2 separate regions of the Homo sapiens genome follow, and region 1 is linked to region 2. The links come from fine-mapping of genetic effects on gene expression. A gene starts in region 2. The other region holds a variant in brackets. All regions are shown on one strand. Distances are from middle to middle. Region 1 overlaps EMC2 (ER membrane protein complex subunit 2). Region 2 holds the start of EMC2 (ER membrane protein complex subunit 2).

What was found.
Region 1: its variant is fine-mapped to the expression of EMC2 in whole blood (INTERVAL, PIP 0.98).

Annotation. Positions count from the first base shown.
Region 1 is chr8:108,468,464-108,484,810 of GRCh38, reverse strand. EMC2 (ER membrane protein complex subunit 2) reads right to left here. Exons shown (of 11, transcript NM_014673.5): 6 at 14,900-14,985; 7 at 14,690-14,749; 8 at 8,848-8,929; 9 at 7,919-8,029; 10 at 5,701-5,805. Among named protein-coding and RNA genes, the nearest start is that of EMC2, 33 kb to the right of the region's middle. The variant C/T (reference allele first, on the strand shown) is at 5,235.
Region 2 is chr8:108,432,542-108,448,325 of GRCh38, reverse strand. EMC2 (ER membrane protein complex subunit 2) reads right to left here and starts at 4,702. Exons shown (of 11, transcript NM_014673.5): 1 at 4,628-4,702. The coding sequence starts at 4,667. LOC105375704 (a long non-coding RNA gene) reads left to right here and starts at 4,854. Exons shown (of 3, transcript XR_928530.4): 1 at 4,854-4,956. RefSeq lists a silencer at 4,749-4,868.

The DNA of each region.
Region 1 (16,347 bases), 36 kb before region 2:
AGTTAATAAATTCACTTACACAAGGATTTACCAGAAACAGAAAGCTTTTTCATTTACCACCATTTATGAAACATAAATAGGAACGGTCCTAATCAGATACTTAAAGGTCTAATTCTGAGAAAAAGTTTTATGGGTTGGGGGAGGGGTACAGAATAGGACATCACATAGTAACATTACCACGTAACATTTATTCTAATTGCTTTTAAATAGCAAAGTAAAAATAAAAAAAATTATGTAGAGCTAAAACCATAACATGTATTTTTAAATACAGTATTTTTCTTGGTTTATACTTAAACATAAAAATAATACAGTGTGATCTTTTAAAATTAGCTAATTTTAAAGAGTCAACTGAGATGGTGTCAACATTACTCACAACCAGTGCAATTTAGAATAAACCAAATAAATTTACTTGTGTCAGAACAAATAAAAGAAAGTTGGAAATACAAATCTATCACTTCAAATTTAATCTGACATGCAATTATTCTGTCTATTCCAGAATTGTATGGCAATTTAACTGATTAAGTCAGAATCATTTTTTCCCTCAAATCATGATTTAATTTTCTGTTTCCCAAAAGGATAGTAACAGAATCACTGCTGCAATCATAAATATCATATAAATCACTAGCACAGATTTACCAGTGCAACAAAGAAGGATTTATCTGGAAAATCATTGTGAGTAGGTTCACATTAAAGTTTTTCATGTGCATTAATCAAATGTGTCTGCTTCTACTGAACATGCTAAACCAATTACCTAATTGACGAGCAAATAGTAGCCATATTCTGTTTCATCATTAAGTGGAAACAAAGAAAGAAAAGCAGTTCTTGAAACCTAATTTTCCCTAATTTATAAATACGTAGAAAAATCCCATACGAAATATTATATACTCTATACCGGTTTATATTCCTAGATATGATTAAGAAATTCTCACTGAGATCCCAAAGATTTACCTAGTTATCAAGAATGTCATTCTCTGAAAGTTATATACTCTTTTACATTATTCACAAATACTGTATTTTTGTTTTCATACAGTTAGATTTTGCTTAAGTAAATCTTTCATAATTCTCTGTAAGATCTATAAGAAAACTCACCAGAAAAAAACACAAAAACAACCAAACAATAAAAACTTGCTTATCAAATTCAGAGGTCAGTGATTCATGCATTGTAATAACTGAGATACCTTGCTTGGGCTTAAATTTACCTTTACATAATTTGTGGAAAATACATGGGTAGACAAAGTAATAGGAAAAATGAAATGGACTGTAAATGAATGAATCTCAAAAACATGCTGAGTGAAAGAAGCCAGACACAGAAGAGCACATAACCTATGAACTCATTTATACAAAGTTATAGCACAAGCAAAACTAATGTTTGGTGATAAAAATCAGATCAGTGCTTGTCTGTCTCCCAGTGGGGGATGAGGTTGACTGCAAAATGGCAGAAGGAAAGTTTCTTGGGTGATGGAAATGCTATTTTGAGTGGGGGGCTGGTAAGGGGATGTACACATTTGTCAAAACTCAGACTGTATACTTAAAATATATGCACTTGATTACATGTAAATTATATCTCAATATACCTCAAGGGGGTCTTGTCACACTGAAGAGACAGGGAAAAGGAAAAACATAATAACTTATGTTTTAATTTCTTTAATTCTCAGAATATTTCATTATGGCCATCTTGCAGAAGAAAAGATACAGCAAGAGATGTTAGGTAATTTATCCAAGTTTGCATAGCTAATAATTATATCAGAGTCAAAATTTGAACCCAGACAACATGGGTTCAAATCTGTAATCTTCTCTTTACTACATTGAACTAGCTTCCATGGACGGGACTCATGATGGAACACAAAGATGGACAGAAACACTGGATATCCATATGGGGAGCAATGGACCCCCTATTTCACATCATACATAAAAATCAATTCCAGGCCAGATGCGGTGGCTCACACCTATAATCCTAGCACTCCATTGGGAGGCTGAGACAGGAGGATTACTTGAGGCCAGGAGTTTGAGACCAGCCTGTGCAATACAGCTGGACCTCATCTCTACAAAAAATTTAAAAGTTAGCCGAGCACGGTGACATGCGTCTACAGTACCAGCTAGTTGGGAGGCTGAGGCAGGAGGATAACTCAACCTGGGTGGTTGAGGGTGTAGTGAGCCATGATCATGCCACTGCACTCCAGCCTGGGCAACAGAACCAACCAGATTCTGTCTTAAAAAAATAAAAATTAAAAATTAAAAATAAATCAATTCCAAATGGGTTGTGGATTAAATACGAAAAGTAAAAGAATAGAAATTCTGAAGACACACAGAATTCTTTATGACCGTGAGTAGCAAAAGATTTCTTAAACAGAACACAAAAAACACAAACAAATGACTGAGGCATTCGAACACATTTCATTTCAGAACTTCTATTCATCAAGATCATATGAGCAAAAAAGTAAGAAGTTATACATATTTGCTTATACATATAACTAAAAAAGGGCTCATAAGCAAAAAACTAAAGAAATAAGTCATGCAAACCAATGAGAAAAACATTTCACGAAAGAGGACATCCAAATGGCAACTGATCATCAGGGACATGCAAAATAAAACCATGAAGTACCACTCTACACATGTACCAGAATGGCTGTAATTACAAAGACTGACAGAACCATGTGTTGGTGAAGATGTGGGGCTATTAGAACTCTTACCGCTGGTGGGAGTAAACTAATTTGGAAAATTGCCTTTAACTACTAAAGTTAAATATACATACATTCTATGACCCATATTTTCACTCAAAGGTATACAGAACTGCACATATATTCCACCAAAAGACCTGTACAGCAATATTCAGTATAGTTTATTCAAAATAGCCCAAACAGAAAATATTCCAAATGCATAGCAATAACTAAATTATAACATTCATACAATGAACTACAGAAGAAAATGAATGAACTACAGACACAAACAAGGATAAATCCCATAAACTGAATAATGATAGAAATATGCAAGACAAAAATGAATACATACTGGCTGATTCCATAAACTATAGGGTTATAAGTGAGTACTCTTAAGGAATACAAAAGGAGAAATTAAGAGGACTTACCAAGAGAGCTTTGGGATGCTGCAATGTTTATATTTATTAGCCTGGATACATTTACCTTATATTAGTCACTGAAAGGCACATTTATGACTTGCATCCTTTTTTCTGTTATAATTCTTATTTCTATGTTATTAATTTAGTAAAAATTGATTTTAAAATAGTTATGTCAAAAAAGCACTCTGAGTAGCTGTTTCTCATATCTTAAAAACAATTATGTAGTATGCATAACGTTACTTTTATATTACACAAATCTTTTTTTTTAATATTACATAAATCACACACACCCACACACCCCCAAGCCTACTCTGTGTGGAACTCCATTACAGATCTGAGCTATCCCAAACTGCATTTGAAGAAGCACAGTCTCACTAATATTTATAAATACTCTGACTTAGAATATGCCAACAAAACTAACATGCTCTATAACAGACAATAAAAATACACAAAGGTGACTTTCAATGATGTGATTATGGAGGCACTACATTTGTAAAATCTTCTCAATTTTCTCCAACCAGAAGGGCAAAAACGAACAACAAAAAGCCAGCACCAAAACCAACATAACAGAACCCACGCCCACAGGTGACATTTTCAAAAAAACTAGGTAACAGTCAATTTTCCAAACCCTAGAATGTGACTATGTCATCAAGAGCAGCATGACCAACAAAAGATTAACAACTGTGTGGTAGGAGGAATAGAAAGTAATAGAGGACAACCTACTACTCTACAAGAAACCAAAAACCAAACAAATTATGAATTCTTAATCCACTAAACAAGAAAACCTGAGATGATGCAGCTGCCAATGGCCTAGAAGTCTTCATAAGCTCCAAAACAAAGATAAATGTAAAAAACTGCTCATAAATGTGAGATTAGACAAGTCTAACCGTCTAATATCTTAAAATTTCTAAAATATCTAGCAAACATCCTCTTCCAGAAGGACAAAACCTCACACCCTGAAGAAAAACAATTAAAAACTGAAACCAAACTGAACAGGGCAGAAACACCAGGGCAAGAAGGAGAGATGGTTCAGACAAGGAGGGGTGAGGAAAGGAGTGATGCCCAGAGGCAGCAATCCCAGAAGAAAACAAAACAAAAAGGAAGAAACACAAACTGTAACAACAATATGTAACATTTAAAGTGAGAGCAACACCTCAGAATTCAAGACTTTGAGGGCTCTAGAAACAGAACAGAGGGCTGAAGCCAGAAAATCTTTCTGAGTCACACTGAGTTCTAAGACAGACTGGCCATTCATACTCAGTTCTAAGAAAGACCGGCTATACAAAGAGGTCATATTTGAATTCTCTTTAGCAAAAAAGGAGACGGCCATAGAATAGCCAAGCTGGGAAAGCTACCCTAACCTATCTCCAACTCCCTGCCATTCCATAAACATTGTCTCCTAATAGTCCAGGAAAACTACCTCATTTAAACATGGAGGAAAGAAAAATATGAATCAAATTCATATTTTTATAAAATACAGAAAATGACAAAATAATTTGAAAGAAAATGAATAAAGGACATAGAAAAATGAAGTCTAATACACGTATTACTGAAACCCTGAAAAAGAAAACTAAGCAGAGAAAAAAATATTTGTAATTCTAAAAGCAACTTTTCTCAAATAAAAGGGCTAAACTGATGTACTAAATGGGTGTACTGTGTATTTGGGAAAACTGACCCAAGAATAATCAATAAAACAAATCATAGTAAGACTACTGGATTTTAAAGATAAAGAAAAAATTCCTTTGCGTAACCAGACAAGTCACTTATGATAAAAAGTAAGTCAAGACGGCATCATATTTCCTGACGGCAACATTTTATTCTGAAACAGAATGAAATAGCTGGGCATGGTGATGCCTGCACCTGAAGTCCCAGCTACTTAGGAGGCTGAGGTAAGAGGATCACATGAAGCCAGGAGTTCATGGCCAGCCTGGGCAATATAGCAAGATCTCGTCTATATTAAAAACAAAACAAAACTGAACAGTATGCTTAAGATACTTAGGTAAAGTATTAACGGGTATATAAAAAGCCAAATTGTCCTTTAAATATAAAGGCTATAGACAAATAAGGCTAAAGACATAAAAAGATGTGTTTTCCCATGAGCAAATTTCTAACGAAAAATAATTTCCTAAAAAATCTGCTAAGGACGAACTTTAGAAAA[C/T]TAAGATACAAATGGAGAAGTTTCAGTAAAGGATCTGAAGTGTAAGCAGACTGCACAAACTTTGTTATGCAGTTTGATTAGTTTAAGGCTTTCTTCCTTCTTTTCTATTTCTTGAGATACCTATGATTAATAATACACTCACATACCCAATCTGCTTCTGAAATGTGACGTGATATTTATTTATCCTTTCTGAGTTTTTAGAATTACTTTGCGTTTGCCAAATGCAGAACCACTGAGATTTCCATATGGTAAGGCTAATTATGAAATAATAATACTAACAGATTCCTCTTGAGGGGAAAAAAAGGTAATCTTAAAACTACAAATTAATTCAAAACACAACACATTTGATAAAGCCCCAAAGGCATATATAAGTCCAATGCTAGACATACGACTTTGTAGTTTGTAGTAACAAAACTAAGAAATACATTAACTGACCTACATAGCAAAATGATCAATAAATACTAACCTGATAAGCTCTGTTTATTTGACTAGCTGCCCAACTAGCATATTTCATGTTGTCCTTTTTCGTTTTTGCACTTGCTTTTGGATTAGAAGCAATATGACTTGCCGACTAAAAACAAATAAAAACATCAAAAGCAAAATTCCTTTTTTGCTAGTCAAGATAATCAAAAACATAAGGGACATGGTTGCAATGGGATAATAAAGAATTTTTAAAAACTGTATTAAAATAATTTTTAATATAAACATAAAGTTGAATATTAGTGCTTAAAAATGAAAATATATTTTAAAATATAGTATAAATCCAAAATAGTGGAAAGGGAAAAGATATTTTAAATAATACCTAAAATTATTTAATTATGTACCTGTAACAGCTCTTAAAGGTAAAATTCCATATCATTTAAATAAAGAAGCTCTAGAAGAACACTTTATAAACCAAAAGCACTTTACCACTGTAGGATATTACTGGTGTTATTTCTTATTACTGAATTACATAACTTGCTATGTCAGAATCATAGAATTATTGAATATTTATAGAAAAAGGAAACTCAAAAATAATTTAGCCTGACATCCTACATTAATAGGTTAAAGAAATTTAAGTCCAATAAGAGAGATTTAACTTGACCAAAGCAAAATAATGGGTCTTCGAAATAAAGAAGATCCTTATCTCTAATCCATTTCTCTTTTCACTATACCATGAGTTTTCAAACTGTGTTTCAGAGAACTAATTAGTCCCTGCAATTTGATCCACCCTCTCCTTTTTAAAAATGTATTTAAATGAGCGGTTCTTAATCTGGGATCTGTGAAAGAATCCATAAAACCCCAAAATCATATGCTAATTATTAAATGTATATATTACTGTGAAGAGTAAGATATAACTTGATTCCTATTCTTAAATATATTTTACTCTTAAAAGAATATGACCATGTGATTCAAAAAAAGGTTAAGCCTTTGTTTTATGCCAGCCTGTGCTATAGGCTCTTTCACCTATGTCTCCCTCTCTGCCAGTGAAGAATCTATATCCCCAAATCTGATTTTTATACCTCTATGACTTTAATGTTACCTTCTTCTTATGAATTTTAGCAGATGCAGTGGTTACGAGAAAAACTCTGGAGTTAACTTCCTGGGCTGGAAACCCAACTCGATCATTTAGGAGCTCTGTGCCCATCTTTGGGCAAATTAATTAAATCTGTGTCTCAGTTTCACCACCTGAGGATAGTATTGAGAGCACCTACTCAAACAGTTGATGTGCGGATTTATTGATTTAAAATAAAAAACAGAGCTCAGAACAATGCCCAGCACATGAAGTGCCATGTATAAGCTATTATTAATTTGTTGTATATTAGTTTTTAAAATTAGTATTTATTTGATACAGAGATACTTCTACTATAGCGTATTTTCAAGCCATTGCAATTGGCTTTGCTAAAATCCAGGAAAATTTTCTTGAAATTCATTTGAACCACCTTCTAACCATATTTTGCCATTCCTTTTTAAAAATTGTTTCATTTTTGTTTCTTCCTATTTCCATTTCTTCACTCAGTTCCTTTTCACTGAGCTGCAACAAGAAGACACTCATCAAGAAGTCAAAGGAACAGGATAAATAAAATATTAAAGTTTATTTCTCCCAGCGTTTCTTATTGTAGGGAGGTGCTCACTTTATATATATGTTTTAAAGGTCAGCAGATTATTCCTCTATTTCCCACAGCTCTTATTAATTGACTTTTCTAAGCTCAGCATTTGGCATACCTAAACAATAGGTCATTACATACTTCCCACAATTTCCAAACTGTTTTTCTACACCATAAAAAATGTTTTAATTTGATGTATTAGGGATTTGATTTCTAATGTATTTTATTGGCACTGTTTAAAAATACCTCATACAACTATAATTTAGGGAAGAAATACAATAATGTTGGGCATAAACCCAAGAATATCAAAACAAGAAATCATGTTTTCTTCCTATCTGTCACTATTTAATTTTATAAGGGCAGATTTCAATTCTGATATAAAAGATAGTTTACAAAAAAAGAATGTCAAACAGCTAGGCTGTGTTAACATTCAAAAAGAAAACTGGCTCACAAGCTATTGCTCAGAATTAATTACAGAAAAAAACATGCTTATCAATAAAATACAAAAAACAGGAGAGGAGTGATTGAAGGGGATAGTTAAATGGATTTTAAGTGACAGATTTTTAAAAATAACATTAAACATGCACCTCAACTCACCATATAAAGTCCAAACAAAGCTCTCATATTTCTGTTGTTCAGTTTCAATGCCTGTGCAAAATACTTTCTTGAAAGTTCGAGGTTTTCAAGTCCACCTTGGGTATACTTAACCTGTTAAAAATTGCAAAGTGCTGAAAACTGTTTATTTTACTACTTTGAAATATAGCATGGTTTCATCATACCATAGGCATTCAGTAATCGAAACAGATATTCTCTGTAAACAAATACAAGATGTTAAAAGAATTCACCTAAAGGTTTTTAAAGCTAATCTAAAATTTCAAACATAACCTTCCCCAAAAAAGCTATTCTATTCTATGAACATTGAGATGACTGAGTAGTTTCTAAAACAAAAATGCTGCCGCAATAAAAAGCCAGAATAATTTCTATTTCAGCTGCCTCGCAAATGCTTCACCTCACATTGTATTTTCTATTACTGGCATTATAAATGTGGACTTAAATATTGAATTGTCCTTTTATAATCTGCATGGACATTCTTTAATAATGAAGTCCTTCTAGCCTTATAGCATTCAGTTGTACTGCTATTCTTAATAATATGCAAATTAAATAAATACTTATGTCCCAATTGGCTTTAATACAAATTTCCCAGAATATGGATTTAACAATCATAATCACTATAAATGTCTCACAAGCCATTAAGTGGTGACAAATGTGATATAACTTATAATTAGGAAAGAAAATAGTATACAAATATAAAAATACAAGGAATTTCACTGTTTTAAGTATGTCTTAAGTCAGTATTACCACTGCAATGTTAAAAATTTTAAACTTTTATTCCCACAATTCAATGCTCATCAGATGTTTTAAATATTTATATACTTGCTTAACATCAAGGAAATATTCTTAGTTCCATAATAACACCGAATAGTAACCAAAATAAAATTATATGCCATTGTTCTGAAAACACTTACTTCAGCATACTGCTGACAGTATAAGTGGTTGTGTGGATTAGTCATCATTAGTTCCTCTAAACAAAAGGCTGCTTTTGCATAGCTAAAAACACATCAAGAGGAGAAATTAATTTTTAAAGTCACAAATTTTTATCTTAGTTAAACCTTGAAATAATTTAAAAACAACTTTAGTCATGTTAAACAATTTATTCCCAATATAATTTACATAGCTTTATTAATAAAGTATTTGTCATCTGAAATTCATAAATATCAATGACATTAAATTTTATCATGAAATTAATAAACACAGGCTTAAATCTTAAAGCAGCCTGCAAACAATCAATAGATACTACATTTCAAAAACTGGGTCACTCCTACTACATCCCATCACTACTAATAAGAAGGGCTTCAAGACCTTGGATCAAGCTGTATATAAAACAACTTCTGGAAGTTGACTGATCATTTAAAAAAATATTCAAACAGCTAATGTGTAAGGAGAAAATAAACATTTTATTAAATATTCTCTACTCACTAAAAATTCTTCACAGGCATATATTTACCAACATATTCTATTACAAAGATTTCTCTCATTACTTAAGTTCACTGTCAAATACCAAATTATAATGAAGTTATAAATTTCTAAGCCCATGAAAAACAGATCAAGTTGGTTTTGATATATACTGTACTATTATTTAATCTTGTGGTAGAATAAACAAAAATCTTGCTGAAAACCTAAGGAAAGAGAACTGCCAGAAAGAGCTCTGGAAAAACATTTTAAAGCATGTGACTGTAATTCACTAAATATATTTTAAACGTTTAATGCCATGTGACTATCCTCACTATCTACAGGAAATTCTAATGAACACAGGTGTTACAAGATTTCTTCCCAGTGAGGAAGTGATGACACTACCCAACAAAAAGAGGCTACCTAAAGTTATTTTTGGCATTTACCAGTATACAAAGGGATCTACCTTTACACTACTGCCTGATATACTTTTAAAAATTATTTTCCTGTTTCACACATGTATACTAATAATAGCTTTTACTAAATGCTTATTACGTGTCATGCATTGTTCTAAATGTGTTACATGTATTAACTCATTTAATCCTACCAAAACCCTAGGAAGAAGGAAATTATTATCAACATGCTAGAGCTGAGAATACTGAGGCACAGAGATGTAAACTGAATCCCAGGCTGTGCCACTCCAGACAGCCTGTACTCTTCAACCACTACATATGCTGCTTATATGCATTACACATCACATTGAAAAACTGAAGATGTCAATGGTAACATGAAAATGTGTACAGCAGTCACACCCAAAGGGACTGAGGAAAAAAAATACACCCTGCAGATTACCTAATAATTACAGCATTTTAGATTTATGAAGGACCACATATATATATGTATGTGTGTGTGTGTGTGTGTGTGTACTCTCATCCAAGATCATGCAGCTATTTAGCCCTTTCCATTTTTAAATTCAAAACCTAGCATTGGTTCTTGACACATGATAGGTATTTAATAAGACTGAACAAATGATTGAATAAATGTCTAAAACAAATGTGTTATGACTACCTACCTAATATATATTTATCACTCGAAAAGAAAAGGGAAAATTTGTCTCTACCTTAAACACTTTATCAAAAGACAGTTCTCTTCTAAATGTGTTCCTTTAATTATTAATAGTATGATGCCAAAAATTCATATTGAGACTAAGAATAAAAGTTCTTAGACATTTAAATGGGTTGAGCACAACTGTGACACTGGTGCATAAAGCAAGATAAAATGGGCAGGTAGTAGCAGCTCTTAGGGTAAAATGAATACCAAGATATTTTCTCAAAAATCAATTAGCATCACATATGAGAAAAGGACTCCTTCCCCCAATTTTATAAAGTACAGTATCAAACTAATTTTGTGGATAAAATATAGAATTAAATAAAATTAGAGCTAGAAGGAGCTCAACAGATGGTCTAGTCCAGCTTTTCTAGGCCATTGTTAGGCCACGCAGAAAGTGACTATTTCCTCAGTCTTGTCAGGGATAATACATAGCCAGTACTATTCTAGGTGCATAGAGAAGTTAATTCATTACACACAGTGACTCAACAAGACTAAGAATAGAGAAGTAAAAATAATTTGAATCTACTTAAAACAGAATAACAATTGTTATTACAATATTAGAGTCAGTACTAGAACTAAATAAAGTTTTCTTCTCTTCCTTACAAAAGTATATATAACTAAAGGTTACAGTATTTGGTACTGTGTGTTACTTTACCAACATCACAATTTTTCCTTAAAGAATTGTGGTAATTCCGTTGATATGGAATTTTAAAAGGCTGGACTTATGAAAAGGAACTATAATCACAATCATAATTAATGTATAATACTAACTGTTCCTTGCTGTATAGTATCTAGTTTCAATAACAAATGAAGTAAAAAAATTTGTCTTTCATAATGTGAATGTATTTTTGCTTACAAAGGTTGGGTATCCCTTAACCAAAATGCTTGGGACCAGAAATGTTTCAGATTTCAGAAGTTTTCAGATTTTAAAATATCTGCATTCTTACTGGTTGAACATCCCTAACGCAAAAATCCCAAATCCAAAATGCTCCAATGAGCATTTCCTTTGAGCATCATGTTGGCACTCAAAGTTTCAGATTTTGGAGTATTGTGGATTTCAGATTTTCAGGTTATGGATACTTAACCTATAATACATATTGGTAGTGCTGACACAAAAAAATTAACTGTAGTTTTAAAACTTTAGAACAAGTGTCTCAATATGGTCAATGGATGTAACATATATCCCTGGAATAACTAAAAACAAACTATAAATCAGAAACAAACTTATAAAAGTAACTTAAAAATATAAAAAGGTTACATGGCACAATTCTATATCCCTTTTTCTCTCTATAGAAACATTAAATAGGGCTATATGAAAATTATACTATAGATATTTATTTGGAGTTTAAAAATTCCAGAGCTGGGCACAGTGACACACCTGTAGTGCCAGCTACACAAAAGGCTGAGGTGGGAAGAGTACTTTAGCCCAGGAGCTCAAGTCTAGCCTGGGAAATGTTGTAGACTCTGTCTCTTAAAGAAAAAAAATAGTTCTAGATATAGGCTACCAAAGCTGCCTGCGACCTATTATACTTAAAAAAGCTTACAACTGTTCATATGCAGAAAGGAATATCGAATGTTAAATATATCTGACATTTTCGAAACTGCTACGTTTTTGCCACTGTGTCCCCAAGACTGGTGCTAAAACTGATATCCTACGATAATTTAACATTCCATCAAAAAATTCCTGCCTCCTATAATGACTTGCTCAAACATGTCAAATGAATCAAGTGAACTGATTGTAATTTTCACAGTTTCAAAAAAACCTGTAGATATGCATTTCCAGTCACCTAAACATAAATATTCCTTCTAAGTGTTCAATTAGAAAAAAAAAATGGTCATTTTGTAACTAACTAGCTTTAAGACCAAAAAGAGTTTTGTGATACTAGATAAAAGGGTAGGCTGACCATAATTATCATTTTCTCTAAAAAAATATTTTTAGGTGCTCCTACATCTTTGTAAATCTTCATTTTTTGAGATTTCTCAGTTCATTTCTCTTAAGTGTACATTCACCTCTGTTTCAATAAACTCTTTAGATTCCAAACAAAGCAAAACTGAAGGTGGTACCACATGGTGAAAAAAATAAGTAAATTTAATGGTAGGTTAAAAATAAGGTATAACCTAAATTTGATGATGAAATAAATATTAGAAATACATGCAAAAAAATAAAATTGCAAATGAAGTAGGGGGAAAAGGTGATATATTTTTAAGCTATTAAAGGACAGCAGACATGATAATGTTAAAAATTGATGAATCTGATTTTCTAAAAATGTAAAGTTTCTATAATTTTAAGAAGTCAGTATTTAAAAAGCATATAACAAGGATATACTTTTGACAAATGGTTGCTCTCCTTTATAAAAAGAGCTCGTAAAAATGAACTAAAAAGGTAGAACCAATTTCACCTATCAAACTTGTAAAGATTAAAAAAGAATCATAGTATCCAGTGTTGTTAAAGAGGGACTCTAGTAAATGCTGGTGTGCAAGTAAATTGATGTTACCATTCTAGGGAACAATCAGGAACTATTTATCAAAACCACAGAAAATGTACATCTTATTTAATCAAGCAATTTTACTTCAAAGAATTTAACCCAAGGAAACAAAATAAAAATGATCACTACAGCATTATATATAAAAATATAAAACAACCTTTATATCTCCCTAGGAAACTCGTTAAAAATACTAGGGTAAATTAGTAAGATGAAATAATATAAAGCCATTCAAAACACACTGTAGATTGTTACAGTGACAAGAAATTTTTGAACAAAATATAACTAAGGGAAAGTATAAACTACGGAAGATAATTTTATTTTGGGCTTTTATTTTAAAAGATAAGGAAGGACAAAAACCAAACAAACTATAGTTAACTTAGGATGCTGGAATTACATGTAATTTTTGTCTTGGTCTTTATGCTTTACTGTGTTTCTCAAATTTTCTGCATTAGGTATTCCTTTAACTTGAAAAAAAAAATTTCCTTGTTGATTTGAAATGTTTTAAAATGCTTTTAGTCAGAAAATCTTTAGAAAGTACAAAAAATGTTAAATGACTGTCACCTGTTTTAGAAACAAAATAAAATTAATGCTAATTATTTTTACTATACTCTAAAAATTCAATTTCATGTATTTAAATATAAGTATTATATACTGTTTCACATGTGTAAGAAATCATGAGTATGTTTACATATGTGTACATACAAGCATATCATCTATACTGAATGTGATTCAGGAAATAATTTCCTAATCAAAACCAGAATATCTGTTTCAGAGTATAGCAGAGAACTTGAAAAACAGTTCCTAGAATATAGTATACATTCATTAAATTACAGCTATTACTTTTATTTTAGCTCCCACTTTCCTTAGACTTATGCAAATAGACTACCTCAATCCTCTAGATCACATTATATATATAGACCACAGACAATAGACAAATGTCTTCATTCTGTTTCTCATCAGTTGTTTGTAGTATGAGAACAAGGTTAAATATTCATGCACAAGAAAATGCGCATGAGAATCTGATTCTATTCTGTCAAAAAGAAGGAAAAGAAACAATGTCATATACTTCAGATTTAGAAGAACTAAGAAAAAAAATAAAAAACACGCCTCTAGATGGAGGTTAGCATTAATGCTGTAATATTAGAAAACTTGCACTAAGACTCTGGACTAATCCTCTCACACTGGGATTTCCTCCTGTCACTACAGCAATAAAAAAGCTAACAAAAACATTAAACATCCAATAAGCAAGATCCTAGAGCATTCAACATTCTTGATTATTCTCAGTTTTTTACCCAGGCAACAGAATGCTTCTACTTTGGAAGAGTTGATTCTCTTAGTACTAAGGCTAATACATGCATACAATTGACAGAATTTTTAAACAGCAGGGAGTATAATACTCTTTGTATATAAGAACAATCTGAACTCTAAAAATTCACAATTTTGATTTACCAAAAATAAACTTAGCTTAGCAAATGCAGGCCTTTTTATTTCCAAAGAATGCCATCTATATTTGAAAGAAAAACTTATTTCCTAAACATAAACAATTTGGCAAAACACAAATGACCTAGTTAAAGCTATTCACTTATTATGACCAGTGAATTACTGATTTGTTCTTTTTCATTTAATTGTTGATTTGTTCTGTTTCTCATTTCAAATGACATGATTCACACCCTCTCACCAATCCTTTGGAAACCACAGTGCTTTCTGAACTTACAGTGATGAAAACTGCACTCAACAAAATGTTGTGTGTTTAATAACTTACTCATGTTCATTGATGTAAAGTTCTGCAAGTTCATGCCAGGCTTCTTGGTCTCCAACAAATCTGGTGAGAGGAAAAGAAAAAAAAGTAAGTGTGTAGATATTCTGTAAATGAACAGCATGAAAACAAACAGGAAAATCAAATGCAAATTCCATTTTAATTAAAAAAGATTTATCAGAATAACAAAACACAATCCTCTTGTAAAATACTCACTGTTCCAGATACTCATTCAGCTCCCGAATGGCCTCCACATTTTTCCCCTGGGCTTTTCGAATGGCAATCTTACGCTTTCTTGCAGCCTGTGGGTTGACATTAATAAAGGATTAGGCCCTTATGATTCCTTGGGGTTTTGTAAAGAAGGTAATTTGACTGTGCAAATTATTATCTCAATGCCAGAGAAATTCCATTGTAGAACTACTGCTTAGTGGGAGTTTATAAACATACCCCATGACATCCCACTGGGGAATTCAAACATTCCTCTAACAATCACATATGCTTTACTTTTGATGCACACAATGTATGCATCGTTTCATCCAAATAAATAATCATCCAGATTCTGATAATTATTAACCAGCAGGGAATCTTAATCTTTATCCAACTTAAAGCCCTTTACTCTGTCTCATTCATAAGATCTGTATCCTAAGAGGGGGAGGAACAGTGGAGATTAGGGGAAAAAAAATCTCACCATGGCATGGCCTTTGAATATCATTATATAAATATGTCTTCTGACAACTTTTTCACAATTTTAAGAGAAAATCTACCTATGAGTCTTTCACAAGAATAATACAGTCCTGAAATAAATATTGTATGATAAGCAAAACAATTAGAAGCTGTATTCTAAAGTTTTTAAAATGATAAACATAAAAATCAATGCCATTTATTGTGCATTCATCAAATATGTACCAGACTTCTACTGTTTGCCAATATTGTGCTACACAATGAAAATATAAAGATAAAAAAGAAATGATAATTCCTTGCAGAAGCTCATTCTCATGACAAAAACGTATCAAATAAAAAAGTTAATGCAGTAAGAGCAATGACAGGGATATCTAGGGTGTTATGAAAATAAGGAAGAGATTCTGACACATGCTGTGTCAGAGTGGACGAACTGGAAAGACAGAAAGCAAAGACGGTCCCACATATGATACGTGTACTGAAACAAAGAGTAAGTAGACATTAAAAAACAAAACAGGAAGTTATTTATGGAAACTGCATAGTGGGAAGAACACATGAGCAAAGGCCTAGGAGAAAGCAGTACTGGCTGAAGTAAACAGTCAGGGACTGGAGCATACTGTATAAATTATTAAATTTACGTCCTCTCTATTTATGTTTGCTTCAAATACAGAAGGATAAACAATAAACCATACTATAACTGAGGCCAAGCTAAACTTATTAATTATGAATAAAATTTCTTATTGTTGATATAATATTCCACAAGATGCAGACAGAAGTAAAATGGATGTGGTCTCTTTACAGTATCAAGAGCTACTCATTACGGGGTGGTAAGAGAGTGATTTGGCTCTGAAGAAATGAAAGTGAAAGTTTAGAGAAATCAAGAGACTAATAAATAAGGGTCAGAGCAATGTTTATAATATTTTGGGTAATTAAAAAATGATGTTTTAATAATATATATCCTTAAGCATATCCTGAGAGTAAAAAAA
Region 2 (15,784 bases):
ACATGGACTTGATACACTTGGTTTGAATCTAAACTCCATCTTTTACATGACCTTACATAACTTACCGAATCTGTACTTAGTTTCCAATACCAATGAATAGAGATAATATTACCTTTAGCTCAGGGATGAGCAGTTAAGATTACATAAAATATATATAAAGTTGCTTGGTTCGTACAATAGTTTGGATATTTTTGTTTTTAAGTTGATTTTGATTACCCTTAGATAAGGGTATACACTTACCAGTTCTTCACAGGCACCACTATTGTCTTTCACCCAACTACATGTATTTTCATCTGCTTGGCCCTTGAGTTTAGGACACCAAACACTAGAAAATTCGTGTAAAGCATTTTATAAAATGTGAAGCCCTACAAAAATTCTAGTTACTTTTATTTTTTAAAAAAATCTGGTAACTGTTTCAGCCTCTCACAAGAAATAAAGGCTCTTCCCTCACTCTTTCCTCAAAGGTGGCTTAAAACTTTCATTTTACCCTTTCACCTTCCTGCAAAAAGCTCGCTCCTCAAAGCCAAGGTCATTTTATTACATACTATGTAAGTAAGCTTCTCACTGCTTGCTTGTACATTTTATTAACTACTGTGCAATCCTGTGAGATGAGCTAAAGGTCAAAGGTTAAGAGAGTCGCTATGATTGTTCTGTTTATTCCTTCCATGACAACTTGCATGAGATGTCACTGCAGTGAGGTGGCCTCTGAAAGATGGAAAAATATGCCTGCTACTTAATTATGATTTCTTTAGTCCAAAACTACTTCCTCCAATCCTGTATCTTTTCCACTTCATTTTTTTATATATTCGGAAATACCACTTACAGATTCATTTACATAAACCAGCATATTCTTTTAAAAGGTTGATAATTACAGGATAATAAATTTTAAATTATTCATGGTCCCATAAAAGTATCTAGTCAGATTGGCTGCAGGCTGTTGGGAACAGCTATTCTAAAAGAAAAGGCAACCTGATTTGAAAAAGGAAAGGGTTAATTTATTTTAATGCACACAGAGCTCCAGAAGACGTATTTTTCAAACTGTGTATTACAATCCATTAATAGGGTATAAAATCGGTTCAGTGGATTTCTTCCAGCATCTGTTGGGGGTGGGGGGGCAGTGGGGGAGAATGAAACAAAATGAACAGAATGGAAGCAATACTCATTAGAATCCTTTGTAAATGCAACTTTGGTTTCAGTTTATACATACACTCAAAGATTCATGTATAGGTATACTTAATTGAGTATGAGTTAATTTGTAAAAGGTGTTTCTTATTGTGAAAAAACACTCATAGGAAAGAGAACTTTTTTTAAAGCATAACTTCTAAGAACGGCAGTCTGACACACAGTCACATATTAAAATATAATAGCTGAACACAAAACAAGAAACACTGTGTATGAAAATATAACTTACAAAACAAGCAACATTTTACCTATAAACACCTTAAGCTATACACCTTACATAGCTGACCCTGCCACACTCTTGAGTGCTGCTGTAATAAATACATTTGTAGCACTATTAACCACATACTACTTTTAGAAATGCCTTAAATACATTTATCTAAAAAAATTATTTGTAAAAATAAAACCATCTTGAAGAAAACATGTTTTCACCTTTGATAGCTCATTACCTCAAAATCACAGCATCCGAAAATCAAGTCATCTTCATTTCCTAAAAATATGGCCTCCCTTCCCAATGTTCACATTTCTGTTAATTCCACCTTCTGTTAATACTACCTGACATTCCATTTTTTAGTGCTGTTTCTGACTCCCACTGTGGGAGTTTTGTATATCTAAGTCCTGTGGATTGTTTTGAAGTATTTCGAAGTATTTCGAAGATTTACATCTTCTACTCTATTTCCACTGCTATTATCCATGCCCAGGCTTTCATCACCCCATGCTAAAATTGCTAGGATAGCTTCCAAACTGATCTCTCAACCCAAATTCAATCTGTAAATTACTACCAGATATTTCTAAAGATTTACTTCATTACAATGTAAATTCTTAAGATACCCAATGATTCCTACCTTCTTTGAGGCAGTATAGTGTATGACTGGAACTATACTTCATTATTCCACTAATATTTACTTCTTGGAGTAAATATTGGAGTTCTTCATCACTCAACTAATATTTCCTAAATGCCTATGTGCCAGGCCTGATCTGGGCACTGAGGATAAAGAAAGAAAGAAAAAGATAAAGTTCCTATATACTCATAATGCTTAGAGTATAATAGGGTAAAAAGATGAAAATCCACATAACTTCAGATAGTGAAATTATACAAATAAAACTAAAAGACCATATGATAAAGTCAGGAGATTGGGAGAAAGGAGGAGCTTTTGGAAAGGGTGGTCAGAGAAGGCTTCTCTAAAAAGGTCATTTTCAAGCTAAGAGAAGAATGATACTAAAACCTGTATCTAAGATACTAAAGAAATTATTTCAACGCTAGAAAAATGGCTTATAATCTTTTCTGACAATGTGTTAGTGTTTATTATTAATCTCATTAACAATTCATTTAGTCATCAAATAATTACTGAGCTCCGCCCCCATGTGTCAGGCTCTAGGGAAGTGACAGTGAAGAAACAGGCCTGGTCCCTTTCATCTTAGGAGAGACAAAATTTTAAAACAAAACACAATTGGGTAAGTGCTTCAATAGTATTAGAATAGAATACATAATCGAAGGATTGCAGGTGTGTTTTGTTGCTTCATTTTATTGTTTGGGTTTTTTTTTTCAATTTTGGTGGGGGATGAGGAAAGGGAAGGGGGTAGTAGAGTGGTCAAGTAAGGCTTTTTTGTAGTAGGTGAGCTTTGTGGGGAATTGATAAATGATAAAGTTTAATGGGGGCAAGAGTGAGGCAAGGAGGGAAGAACACTCCCAGTGGAAGGACTAGCATGTGCCAGCTTTAAGAAGCAGCATGGCAATTTAGGGTATTCAACAAAGGCCAGCATAGGCAGCTCACAAAGTGAGAGGGAGAAGGGCTCAAGATAAAGCTGGAGACATGGGCAACCGCCAGATCATACAGAGGAAGGACATAATCATATTAGCACTAGCTAATAGTAACACATCCTTTTATATAGTACTTAACAGTTTACAAAGCACTTTAAAATGTTTTCTTTGTTCCTACAAATTTGTGTAGTAGTTATTATTTATTATTCCAAATTAATTACATCAATCCTCTTTAGAATGACCACAGGGTAAGGTCCAATTACTCAGTTAAATCACCTTGTCTGTTGGTAGTATACAGCTACTCGTCCCTCAGGATTTTATATATGCTACTATCATCTAGGAAACCTATAATGAACATACCTTCATAATAGCATTTTCTAAAAATTATGTAATATTTAAAACATTTTTTAAAAAGCATTAAAAATAACATCCATTTATCTACGACTCAGCTTACGGAAGATACCCTGACACAAGCCTTTTAAAACTGTGTGTTTACAGGTTTGTTTTCTCCATTAGATTGTGACTTCCTTGGAAGTGGGGACTGTGTGTTGACAGAGCCAAGATTTTGCAGTAAGAAATCAACACTGTTGTTTAATATAATGGAATCCCTCAATTCAGGTATAAATACTGAGATTCACAACGTGCTAGAGGCCATAAAGTCAATAAATCATTTAATTCAGTTCAAGTACAAAGAAATTTTGCTTTATTTGTAACGGATTTACAACTTTATAATAACTGATATATTTATTCACGATAAAACAGAAAATACAACTTTCGGTCCACATGTTTTCAGGTCATTATTAAAACATCCCAAGAAGGCATTCGTTAAGCAAATTAGCTACTGAAGTCTCCTGTATTATGTTAAATGCTGGGAATATGAATTCCAATTACACAAATTCCACGCCTTAATGAAACTCAAGTTTCTTAAGCACACAGAATTGATCCAAGGTTTGGCTGTTCCCAGATTTAAAGAACATATCCCACTCTAGATCAACTAAGGATAGGGAAAAGTGACCATCACACGTAAGCACTTACGTAGCCCAGAGTTAATTAGTTATTTTTCCCTTCAGAAAAGAAACTACTAGTAGGGAGTAAGAAAGAAGTTGTGTTGTGTGTGTAAATGTGTTTTGAGAAGGAGTGGGACAGAGACTAGACTAAAAGGAAAAGAAACTGGAAACCCGGGTTTAAGAAGAAAACTAAATGTAGAGTGGCATATGAGAATCACATTTGTTCACGCATCTTTTACACAGCTTTTCTGCACAGAGCTGTAATCCTTACACACCACTTAGTAAAGGGCCTTACAGGCCCTGTGTTTCTTGGCTCCAAAGAAGCTTCAGTAACCACCTATTCCGCCTCTTCCGCACCGCCCAGCAACCAGTTAGCGTGCGACAACCCCAGCCCCAAGTCCCTCCCGCCCGCCTCATAAATAAAAGCGGCCCCGGGACGCTGGACTGGCGCGGAGGAGGGCAGGTCAACCGAGGAGCAGACACCGTGGGAAACGCTGCAGAGTACGCGTCCGGGCCAAGGGAAGGGTCAGCCTCAGCCTCCACCTCAGCTTGGCCCGTACAGTGAGGGCTCTGGTACCAAAAAGACACCAGAGAACCCAGCTCCCCGAAAGCAGCGGGTACTCCCGAACGGCTTCCCAGCGCTTTTAGTCTTTCCGCACCCGCCCCCACCCGAAGTTACCTTCCCAAGTGACATCGTAAAGCTCTGAGACCTTCGCCATCTTCCCAGAACCTAGAGGCAGCGGGGTGAGAGGGCGGGGAGACGCAGTCACGTGACCCGCCACCGGGCGGTGGAGAGTTACGTAGCTTTTTCTCATTGGCCAAGAGAGCAGAGGGGGCGGTATCCGCCACGCACGTGCACGCGGCTCTGCGGAGGGGCTTTCGGGGAAGGGGGCGGAGCGAGCTGGGCGGAGCGAGCTGGACGGTGGACGGAGCTAGGTGGGCGGTGCGTGGCGCTCCCGCAATCTCAGGATACCCTGGCTGCTGGCGGGGCTACGGTGCTGGCTCGGGGTGAGGTGTGTGTGTGTGTTGACGTGGATTTTTAACAAATGCTGGGTTTTTAGTGTCCGTCAATCCTGGCTTTTCAGTTTTTTCTACCTAGGCTTGTTCATTCTCTTCACACTCCCTTAAGTACCCTTATTCTCTTCATGGCCGGCCGCAGTGCAGCCTTCTGCACGAATCCCTTATTTGTCCCCAACTTTCCTCCTTCCGTAATGGGATTTGCTTTCCGTTCACTTTTTAATCGACTAAACGGATAAACTCCAAAGTTTTGAGAGACTAAGTGGGATTCTTCCTTTGCGCTCTGAAGTTCCCTTGAATGCCCTCGCGCTAGCTTATACCCTTCATTAACGCTCGTCGTGCCTGTCATTGCTTCATCCATGTCTGCATGCCACACTAGGTTTCAAACTGTCGCGAGTATGTAAGTACTTATAAGGAATGAATGTACGAATGAGACCTTCACAGTTCCTGAACTTCGCTCCTCATTACTCCTGGGTGGATGGGGGAGCCTCCTTTCCCACCAGACTAATTGCTTTTAGGAAACTTTGGACGTCATCTCCTAGACTTAAGGAGAAATGTCTGGACAGGAAGTAAAAAATTTGAGGATGATAAGCGTATATTTAGTATTTGAAGCAATGGGGACATGAGATTGTAGAGGAAATATGTAAGCTGAGAAAAAACTAAAAATCACTGCAATGCAGCCGAAAGTTATTGGTCAGTAAAGAAGGGGCAGTTGATTTGAGAAGTAGAAATAATACTATCCCACAAGTCAAAAGAGTGGAGGGTTTTTTTTCTCAGCTTTATTGAGGTGTAATGGACAAAAATTGTGTATATTTAAGGTATACAAAGTAATGATTAGATGTAAATATACACTGTGAAATGATTACCACAAGCAAGCTAATTAACACATCTATCACCGTACATATTTCCTGTGTGTGTGTGTGTGTGTGTGTGTTGAGAACACTTAAAAATCTCTCAGCAAACTTCAAAGTATACAATACAGAATTATAACTGTAGTCACCATGCTGTACATTCGATCTCCAGAACATATTCATCTTACAACCAAAAGTTTGTACTATTTGACCAACATCTCTCCATTCCTCACCTGTCGGCTCCAGTCAACCGCAGAGGTTTTTTTGTTTGTTTGTTTAAAAAAAGGAAAAAAACCATCAAACCATAGACCCCAGAGAAGTCACTTAACAACAGAGAAGACTAGTGAATGTATATACTTGGATTCAATTCTGAATGAGCTGGCATTCTTTCTAAACAGACTTTTTAAAAATCTTTCATTCAAAAAGTTAAAAAATACTCAGAAATTCACATATTTTAATGCTCCAGTAAAGCAACCTGGTGCAATAGGAAGAACAAGAACTCCCAGATCTGAATCCAGGCTCTACCTTTCAGTAGCTGGGTGACTTTCAGCTTATTTCTCTCTAAACATCAAAAAGGCTCATATATAAAAATCTAATAATATGTGTGTAAAAAGAAAATAGCTACCTTGTGTTGTTAATCAAGATAAAAACAGATGCTGCAGCTAAAGCCCCTGCGTGGCACTCTCATGGAGGTACCATCCTATGTCTAGAAATACTGTTTATATGCTGATCAGTCCCAAACTGATAAACCTTCCCAAAACCCAGTCTGGTTGCTTGACGTACTCAGATAGCTAGCTGATACGCATCTCAAAGTTAACATATCCCACACAGAACTGCGGATTCCTGCTGTCACCTTCCGCATTCCCACCTTGTTTTTCCCTGTCATAGGTGAGGAAACCATTTACCTAATTGCACAAGTTAAAATTACAGGAAGTACCTTTGATTCCTTTTTTTGGCACCACCTCCCATATCTAGTCTATCAGCAAATTCTATATTGCACTTCCCAAAGTTCATCTACTTTTCATATCTATTGCTATTACCTTAATCTAAGCCACAACTACGTCTCTTCTGAATGATTGTGATAGTTTCCTAGCCACCTTTGTTTCATTCTTGCTGTGTAAAATCTGTTTTTTTATACAACAACCCTACTGGTCTTAAAAAAAAAATCAGACTGCAGAAGTCCCTTGGCAATAGGCCTCAAATGGCTCCCCATGGCAATAAAAATGTACTTCAAACACTTTACCATGGTTTACAAGGCTTTACTCAACCAGGTGACATTTGTCTACCTCTCCTACCTCATCTCCTACTATTCTATTTCTCCTCACTAGCCGCCAGCCATTCTCATCTACTTCCTATTCCTCAAACAGACCAAGATCCTATCTGCCTTGTATCTGGCATTTGCCCAGCTGTTTCCTTTTCCTAGAAACCATCTTCCTTTTGTCATTCATATCTCAGTTTTAAGTGTATCTACTCATAGACCTCTCTTGACCATCCAATAAAAAGTAGCCCTTAGGTAATGCCTATCCATCATAATGACACTTATCACTATTTGATTTTTTGTTTGTTTACTTGCTTACTTTCTGTATTTTACACCACTTTAAGCTGCTTCAGAGTACCAACTTTGTTATTTTAACCTTGGAACATCCAGCCTAGAAAAATACCTGGAGACAGTAAAAATGTTTATTGAATGAATGAGTCAGATTAAAAATGACAGCTTATATTAATGATTATTAAGAATAACATTTCTTAATAGTACACATATGAACTCTAGTTAAGCATAGGATGTTTTCTTTTTATAGCCGATACTTTCCTAAAAATTATAAATTCAGTGAATTCAGGGACCATACCAATTCATTTTTTTCTCTCTCAGCCCTTACTACAATATGTTGCATACAAGAGACACTTAATATTTTCATGAAATTATTGACACTTAACATTTCATTGGTTGGTTTGAGGGGTCTAAAACCTCTGGGAAAGCCCAAGGAGGTATTTTTAAAGCCTTGCAATGGATTTTAAAGGTTACAGCTAATTGAGGGAATACATATTTTCTAATCACTTCAACTAAATATCCCATAGCTAGCTACTATTGTCTGTCAAGCAATAAGCCGTATGACACTGAGTTAAAAGTCATCATTTTCAGAATTTCTAAGCTGGAAAATAGAGTAATTTCATTTTCGAGTTAGAATGGGCTGATGAATCTTGAGAATAATATTTTTCAAACCTCTTTTTCCTGCAACTCATACTAAAGGAATATGTTTTGCATTGTCACATAGTATGTGTACATGTATTTAAAACTGAGACAAAATTTAAAAACTAGCTTTGTCATGTGTCTTGTCCCCTACATTTTCTATTCAAATTCTGTCAGCTACATTTTATTTTCTAAAACTACTGGTATGACACAGAAATGAGGTCATGACTCATAGTTTAAAAAACACCAATGGATATCGTATTTCCTAACCTGAGGCCCTAAAGTGAAATGATTTGCCCAAGTTTCTGCCACTAGCAGGTAACAAAGATAGGTGATTCATATGGAGATCCGTTGTTTAGATCGTAGATGAAAGATAAAATATTAATGAGAAAAATATATTTAGGAGAAATTTTGTCACCAACAGTACTCTGAAGTGGGGAAAATGATTGCTTATAGATTATAACATTTTGCATGTCTAATAAAACTTGCCTTCCTCAGGCACACTTAGGAAAAAACTGGTATGTCAGTGACAAGAATTCTATATTCTTTAACATTGTATAACATGTAATTATAACTAAATAAAAAAACCTTCTATAAATAAAACTGTAACACTGAAAACATAAACATCAATTTTACCTTCTGTAACTCCTCCTTTACAAGACGTCTTCAAAGTTTTGCCTCTCCCTCTCTCACTCATTGGGAAAATTTTCATTCACATGTGTTTAAAATATTTAGTCCAGTTTTTCTGATTGAACATTGCCCAATATTGGTGACAAATACCAAGGAAATGTCCAGGCAGCCAAATATTAGATTATACTAGTACCCACATTATGAATAAGATGTGTCAGACACCACGGGAAGCATTATCTCACTTAATGATATCAACAGCACAATGAAAATGTCTATAATTTTTTTTATGTGAAGCTAAATTGTGATTTGGTTTTTTTCCTGGAAGATTATGTTTGAAGAGTTGGAATGACAATAAATCGGAATGAACTAGATTGATACAGGAAAAACTTCGAATAAGCCCACATTTTCTTTGAGGTAGGATATAAGCCAAATTAGTCCACAGAGCACTTTAGAGTACATCTTTTTTATGGTTTACTTAAATCAATTATTATCTTCAGACATTGTGAAGGACTAAAGCAACCTCTTAAATTTAATAAATTTTATGGCATTTATACAATGTACATTATTTCACAGGATATAAGCCAAATTAGTCCACAGAGAACTTTAGAGTACTTTTTTTTATGGTTCACTTAATTCAATTAATATCTTCAGACATTGTGAAGGACTAAAGCAACCTCTTAAATTTAATAAACTTTATGGCATTTATACAATGTACATTGTTTCACAGGATGGAACATAATACTATTCTAGTTGATTTTGCAATATTCGGCATCTTCATCAAACCATTTACTTAGAATCTTCTGTCTGCTTTGTCCTGGTCTTAGTCATAGTGAATTAGTGTCCCATGTTATGTAACACAGCTTGTAACTCCTATTTACTATGACAGTTGCCCATCAGAGTAAGTTGGTCTCACTACAACTCTCCTATAAAATTTACCAAAGCTTTTAAATTATGTCATTGTTTCTAATTAGTGGATCATAACCATAATCCCTTTTTATTTAAGTGGAAATATTATTCATTCCGTGCCACCAGAAAATAACCTTCATTCCATGTCACCAGACCTTCACTGTGACGCATCTTGTTCAGAATGAAATTTTTCTTAGAATTTTATTTACCAAAAACCAGATTAATATGGAATTGTTTTACGAATCTACTGAACATTGTTTTTATTACATTTTTAAAAGACTGTATAATTAATATGCTTCCCCCAAAATCAGTACCCAGTCCCCCCTTTGCTGGCACAACTGTAGCATTTAGGCATGTCTATTTTTTTTAAAGTTTGTTGTCATTTGTAATATATATGTTTTTAAATGTGCCAGCCATCATTTCATACCCAGTTATATTATTTTAGAAAGGAAAGGGGAGTCTCTGGGAAACATTTCCAGTGAGATTGCTTTGGTCCTTTCACAGTATATTTCGCAAACTGATAATTACCCCTCTGTGCCGTGGCTGTAGCACTGAAAAGGAAAGTACATCCAGAAAGAGTACACCCAGAATTACCCCACATGGGCTATAAATTAGAGCTGTTTCTTTTTGAGATTTATAACCATACTTAAGAGTCTACTTTTTCAAGTGATATGTATTTAATTTCCCCGAAGTGCATATTCTGTTCTGATAGACACATACATCTGTGTAAATGTAACTCCTTGTGCAAAAATGTATTTTCATAAACATCTCTTTTGGTTACCAAATATCCAGGAGTCCCTAAATACTCTTAATGTGACCTGATAGTCCCTGAAGACCATCTAGACTCTACTTTCTACAGTAGGACTATAACTGAATCCTTTACTTGAAAAAAATGTTCAAAAAGGTGTTTATTTACAATAAATAAATTATGGGAAACTCATGCAAAGATATACTGAATGTCACGTTATGCATGTTAGTCTATTATTGATGTAATTTTTATTTTTGAATAGTCCCTCTCTTTGGTAGTTTGGTAGCATTACTCTAGTTACAAGTGGCTAAGTCATTTGTTCAGACATGTAGTTCTCAGCTATCTTACTCCGGTCACCAGACCAGAATGTCATTTTCTTTACTGGTCATCTTTTTCTGTGGTCATGCTGACTACTCGGCTAAAATTGGCTTAAAGGCCAACAGCCACATTGAGCATAATGTGGTCATTTTCTCTTTGAGATCATAAATCACACTCTCTTTTGTACCTAAGAGGGCCTATTTGGTCAGCACCATGGTTTTATTTGGAAAAAAGACTAGTTTCCCAGCAGAATGTCTAACAAAACTGCCCACCCCCAAATCCATTCTATTAGACCTATGCATCACCATCTCACTCCTGAGAAAATAGCATGATCTCTATTTTTCAAAATTTTATGTAACATAATTTTTTTAAATTTTATTAAAGTTGTTTATCTCAAAACTTTGAAGTAAGGAACAATATAGACATGCTTCAAAAGCCGCCACTTAAATTGCTGCCACCTCTCTAGAAATTATTTCAGCAATGGAATATTTTAATTTCCTTCTGTTCATTATGTTTCTATTACACATTTATTTTGGATCTTTAAATAATGAATTTGAACATGTGTCCAGTGGGGATAGAGGTATGATGGGGGGTGATTTCAGTTGATAAAATTTTTCTAGCAATATGCAAGATTATTTTAAGTAGAACCTCAATCGAGTTATTAGAAAACATCAGACAAACCCAATTTGAGAGCCATTCTACAAAAATAACTGACTGGTACTCATCATGGGGTAGCAGTGCCATTCTATATTCCTCTTCTAAGTTTTAGACAAGTGCTTAGTCCTAAGCACCCGTTGATGGATTCTAAGGTCATATATTTGATGAAATTAGAAGAATAGACTTAAATTTATGAAAGAATCTCCAAAATAGTTTGTGTTAATTACATTGTACATACCCTGCCAGAGAGGGTGTGGAGCACCTTTACATTCTAGGTGACAGCAATGGATTCTTTGCCTACATACATGTACATTCCTCTCATCTATGGAGATTAATGGGTTTTAATCTCAGGTTACACATTCTAGCAATGTACATTAAGTAACTTGAGCAAACTGACTTCACTGAATGCTAGTTTCCTGTGTAAAACAAGCATAATACTTGCCAATTATAAAAAGGATTACAAGTAACAAACACAAAATTTCTCGGAGTCTGGCATAATAATATTTTCAATTTACATATCAGTTATTGAGTACTTAATGTATACCAGGAACTGTACAAACTGCTCTTTCTAGATTATTTTGTTTAATTCTTAAACAACCCCACTTTACAGATGAGGGAACAGTTAGGAGAGGTTAAATAATATTCCCAAATACCTTGTGATATATTCTGTTGCATTGTAGGTTCTTAGTAAACAGTAGCTGTGTCGTTTTGGTCCATTGGGAAGCAGACTTTGAGATGGAGTTAGAAATGCAAGAAATTTATTGGGAGCGCTCTATATGAAATAGAAAGAGGAAGCAAAATTGGTTATAGAGAACTTTTACACCATGGCACATATATAATGCCTGTGTAAGACAAGTGGGTAGGAAGAAAGATTGGGCAGGAAGAGCCATAGACCATGATTTAGACCTGACAAAGTATCAGCCAACTCAATGAGAAGTTTCTGAGCAAAGATTGCCCATTAGAAGAGACCCACAATGGGCAGAAATTGCCAGGCCTTGTGTAGTGACATGCTCATTTATTGGCTGGGGAATACCCAGAAGGGCATGGCCTCCGCTCAAAAGCTGAGATTAATCCTGAAGGCTTTAATAGCTGGAGGCTGTCAACTTCCTGCACTACTTCAGCAAGTTCTTTTTTGAAGGGAGATTCAAACAGTATACTTCATGGCTGCCACAGTAGCCATTATTATTATCTTTCCGTTCTAGGGGTGCACTACCTCAACACTATTAGGTAAAAAATTGTTGATGAGAGGTAGGGGTCTGTGTTCTTCAGAAGTCACTGGTGATTTGACATATGGAAATTACCCATTTTGACTGCACAGAATGTCTTTTTCTAGTATATAATAAATAGGCCAGCAATGGTTGCCTTGTGTTGAAGAAAAGACTTGGTAGAATACATATAATCCACAGAGGCTTGTTTTTATGAAATATAAATCAAAAATCATTCATTCTTCTTATGGGTGGAGACTACTACTACTACCATTGGTAAATTACCTAGAACTTCATATTTCTTCCTCCTTTTTTACCCAGATGCCAAATATATCCAAGTAATTTAGAATTTTAGAAATGTCTTTCCAAGAATAACAGTATAACTCTGAAAAATGGCAGCATTTCTAAAATTCTAGAACTCAAGCTCTCCCTGAAATACTAGAAAATTCCAAAGACACTGCAATCAGAATGCCCCTAGATAATTCAGTGGCTAGCTGCCATACTATCATTGATGGTTGCTTGTTAATAAACTTAAGCAAGACTAAATTTTATCAGTATTTTCCAACAGTAGATAATTGATTACAGGTGTGAAATATGAATGCTGCGTAAATATGCAGCCCCTCAATGTCATCTTGCTGTTCTCTTGGATGCCAAGGCAGCCTTAGTTAGCATCTGCTGTGCTGCACAGATGCTCTTCTGGGAAGGTAATTAATAGTAGTCTGTACTCTGGACTGCCAGAAGGAATGATATAATGAAATCAGTACCTAATGGGGGGAGGCAGAGTGCTTCCTAGACTTCACATGACTAGTAAAGTTGAGTTTCAAAGAGAAGGACTGTCTCTTTTTAAAATTTTTAGCAACAGAAGAGGGCTGCTGATTGTCTCTTTTAAAGAATTAAAGCAACAGAAGAAAACTTTGGCAGTTCTTTTCAGGGAGCAGTTACATGGGACACAGTAGTTATGAATCTCAGTACACAAACTCAGGTGTGCAAGAACAAAATTTGCACTTTTATAAAACAGTTTGTTTTCAACTTCTGTTTTAGAATCGGGGGTGCACGTGCAGGTTTGTTACATAGGTTTGAAGTACAAATGAATCCAGCCACGACGTAGTAAGCATAGTACCCAACAGGTAGTTTGAGGTTTTTGGGGGTTTTTTTGTTTTGTTTTGTTTTTTAATTTTTTTTTAAGACAGGTTCTCACTCTGTCACACAGGCTAGAGTGCAGTGGCATGATCAAGACTCACTGCAGCCTCGAACTCCCAGAGTTGGGCTCAAGCGACCTACCTGCCTTATACCCCCCACCCCACCAGTAGCTGCTACTACAGGTGGATGCCACCATGCCAGCTAATTTTTTGTATTTTTTGTAGAGACAGGTTTTCACTGTGTTGCCCAGGCTGGTCTCAAACTCCTGGACTCAAGAAATCCGCCTGCCTCAGCTTCCCAAAGTGCTGGGATTATAGATGTGAACCACTGCACCCGGCCCAATAGGTAGTTTTTGTTTGTTTGTTTGTTTGTTTGTTTGTTTCAACACTTACCTCCCTCCCTCCCTGTACCCTTTTGTATTCCCCAGTGTCTGCTCCCATTTTTATTACCACATATACCCAATGTTTAGTTTCTGCTAATGAGAACGTACAGAATTTGGTTTTCTGTTTCTGCATTAGTTTGTTTAGGATGAGGTTTCCAGCTTCATCCATGTCACTGCAAAGGACATGCTTTTATCCATTTTTATGGCTGTGTACTATTCCATGGTATATATGTACCACATTTTCTTTATCCAGTCCACCGTTGTTGGGTACCTGTGTTGATTCCATGTCTTTGCTATTGCGAATGGTGTTGCAATGAACATAGGGGTGCAGGTATGTTTTTGGTAAAATGGTTTATTTTCCTTTGAGTATATACCCAGTAGTGGGATCTCCAAACTGCTCTCCATAGTGGCTGAATTAATTTACATTCCCAGTAATGGTGTATAAGTGTTCCCTTTTCTCCACAGCCTTGTCAACAACTGTTTTTTTGTTTTTTGTTTTTACTTTTTAACAAAAGCCATTCTGACTGGTGAAAGATGGTATCTCTTTGGTTTTGATTTGCATTTCTCTAATGATTGGTAATGATGAACATTTTTTCATGTTTGTTGGCTGCTTGTATGTCTTCTTTTGAGGAGTGTCTGTTCATCTCCTTTGCCCACTTTTTAATGGGGTTGTTTTTTGCTTGTTCAACTGTTTAAGTTCCTTATAGATTCTGAATATTAGACCTTTGTCAGATGTATGCTTTGTAAATATTTTCTCACATTCTTTTGGTTGTCTGTAAAGCTCAATTTTTATTTGAGGTACCATTCTTTGGGGAAGACAAAAATTTAATCTCAGCTTGAGGTTTGCCTCATCCTGCTGCCTCCACCTCTTTCCAGGCTACTCTGACTCATGTGTGAAAGTGATATTCAAAATATTTAACAAGCTGTAGGCAAGGTCGCCAACTGTCGTAGAAGCCTTCAAGATGGTTCCCAGTAATTTGCACCTTCTGGTTAGTACCCCCTATGTAATCTCTCCTACACTGAATAGGAACGGCCTGTGTTATCAATAGAATATTTTTCAGAAATGATGGAGTATAACTTTCTGAGGCTAGGTCATAAAAGACATGTGGCTTCTGCTTTGCCCTCTCTTGGATCACTCATTCTGGGTTATGAGGACACTCAAGCAGCCCCACAGAGAGGTCCATGTGGCGAGGACTGAGGCTTCCTACAACAGTCAGCATTTATTTGCCAATCATGGGAATGAGACATTTTAGGATTGGTCCTCCAGCCCCAGTCAAGACTACAGACTTAGATGACATCTCAACTGATATACCTTGAGCCAGAACCACCCAGCTAAGCTGCTCCCAAATTCCTGACTCACAGGAACTTTGTAAGATAAAAAAAAAGTGCTTAATATTGCTTTAAGCTGCCAATTTGGGGAGTAAAATGTTATATGACAATAGATGAGCAATATACCGGCCAGTCAGAAAGAAAGCAGACACTGGCTTTAGTGCTTACACGGGGTCCTGGAGGCTCCTCGGCTATTCCAGGCATTAATCTTTTAGTTTGGGGGAGGCGAGTGATTCGGGGTAATTAATATTTATCAGTTTTGGTAATTTATCAACCAGTACAGCCATACCAATTATATCATTCATTCTTATATAGTCTCAAGGCATTGAGAAGTCCCCATGGCCCTCCAGGTCACAATACAGCCCTTGTTTCTCTCCGTAAATGTCTCTGGGTCCTGTGCCTCTCTTAACTTGGTTTGGATCACATGGGAATTTGGGTTTCCCTCCCTAGTCTCACTTTCCAGAC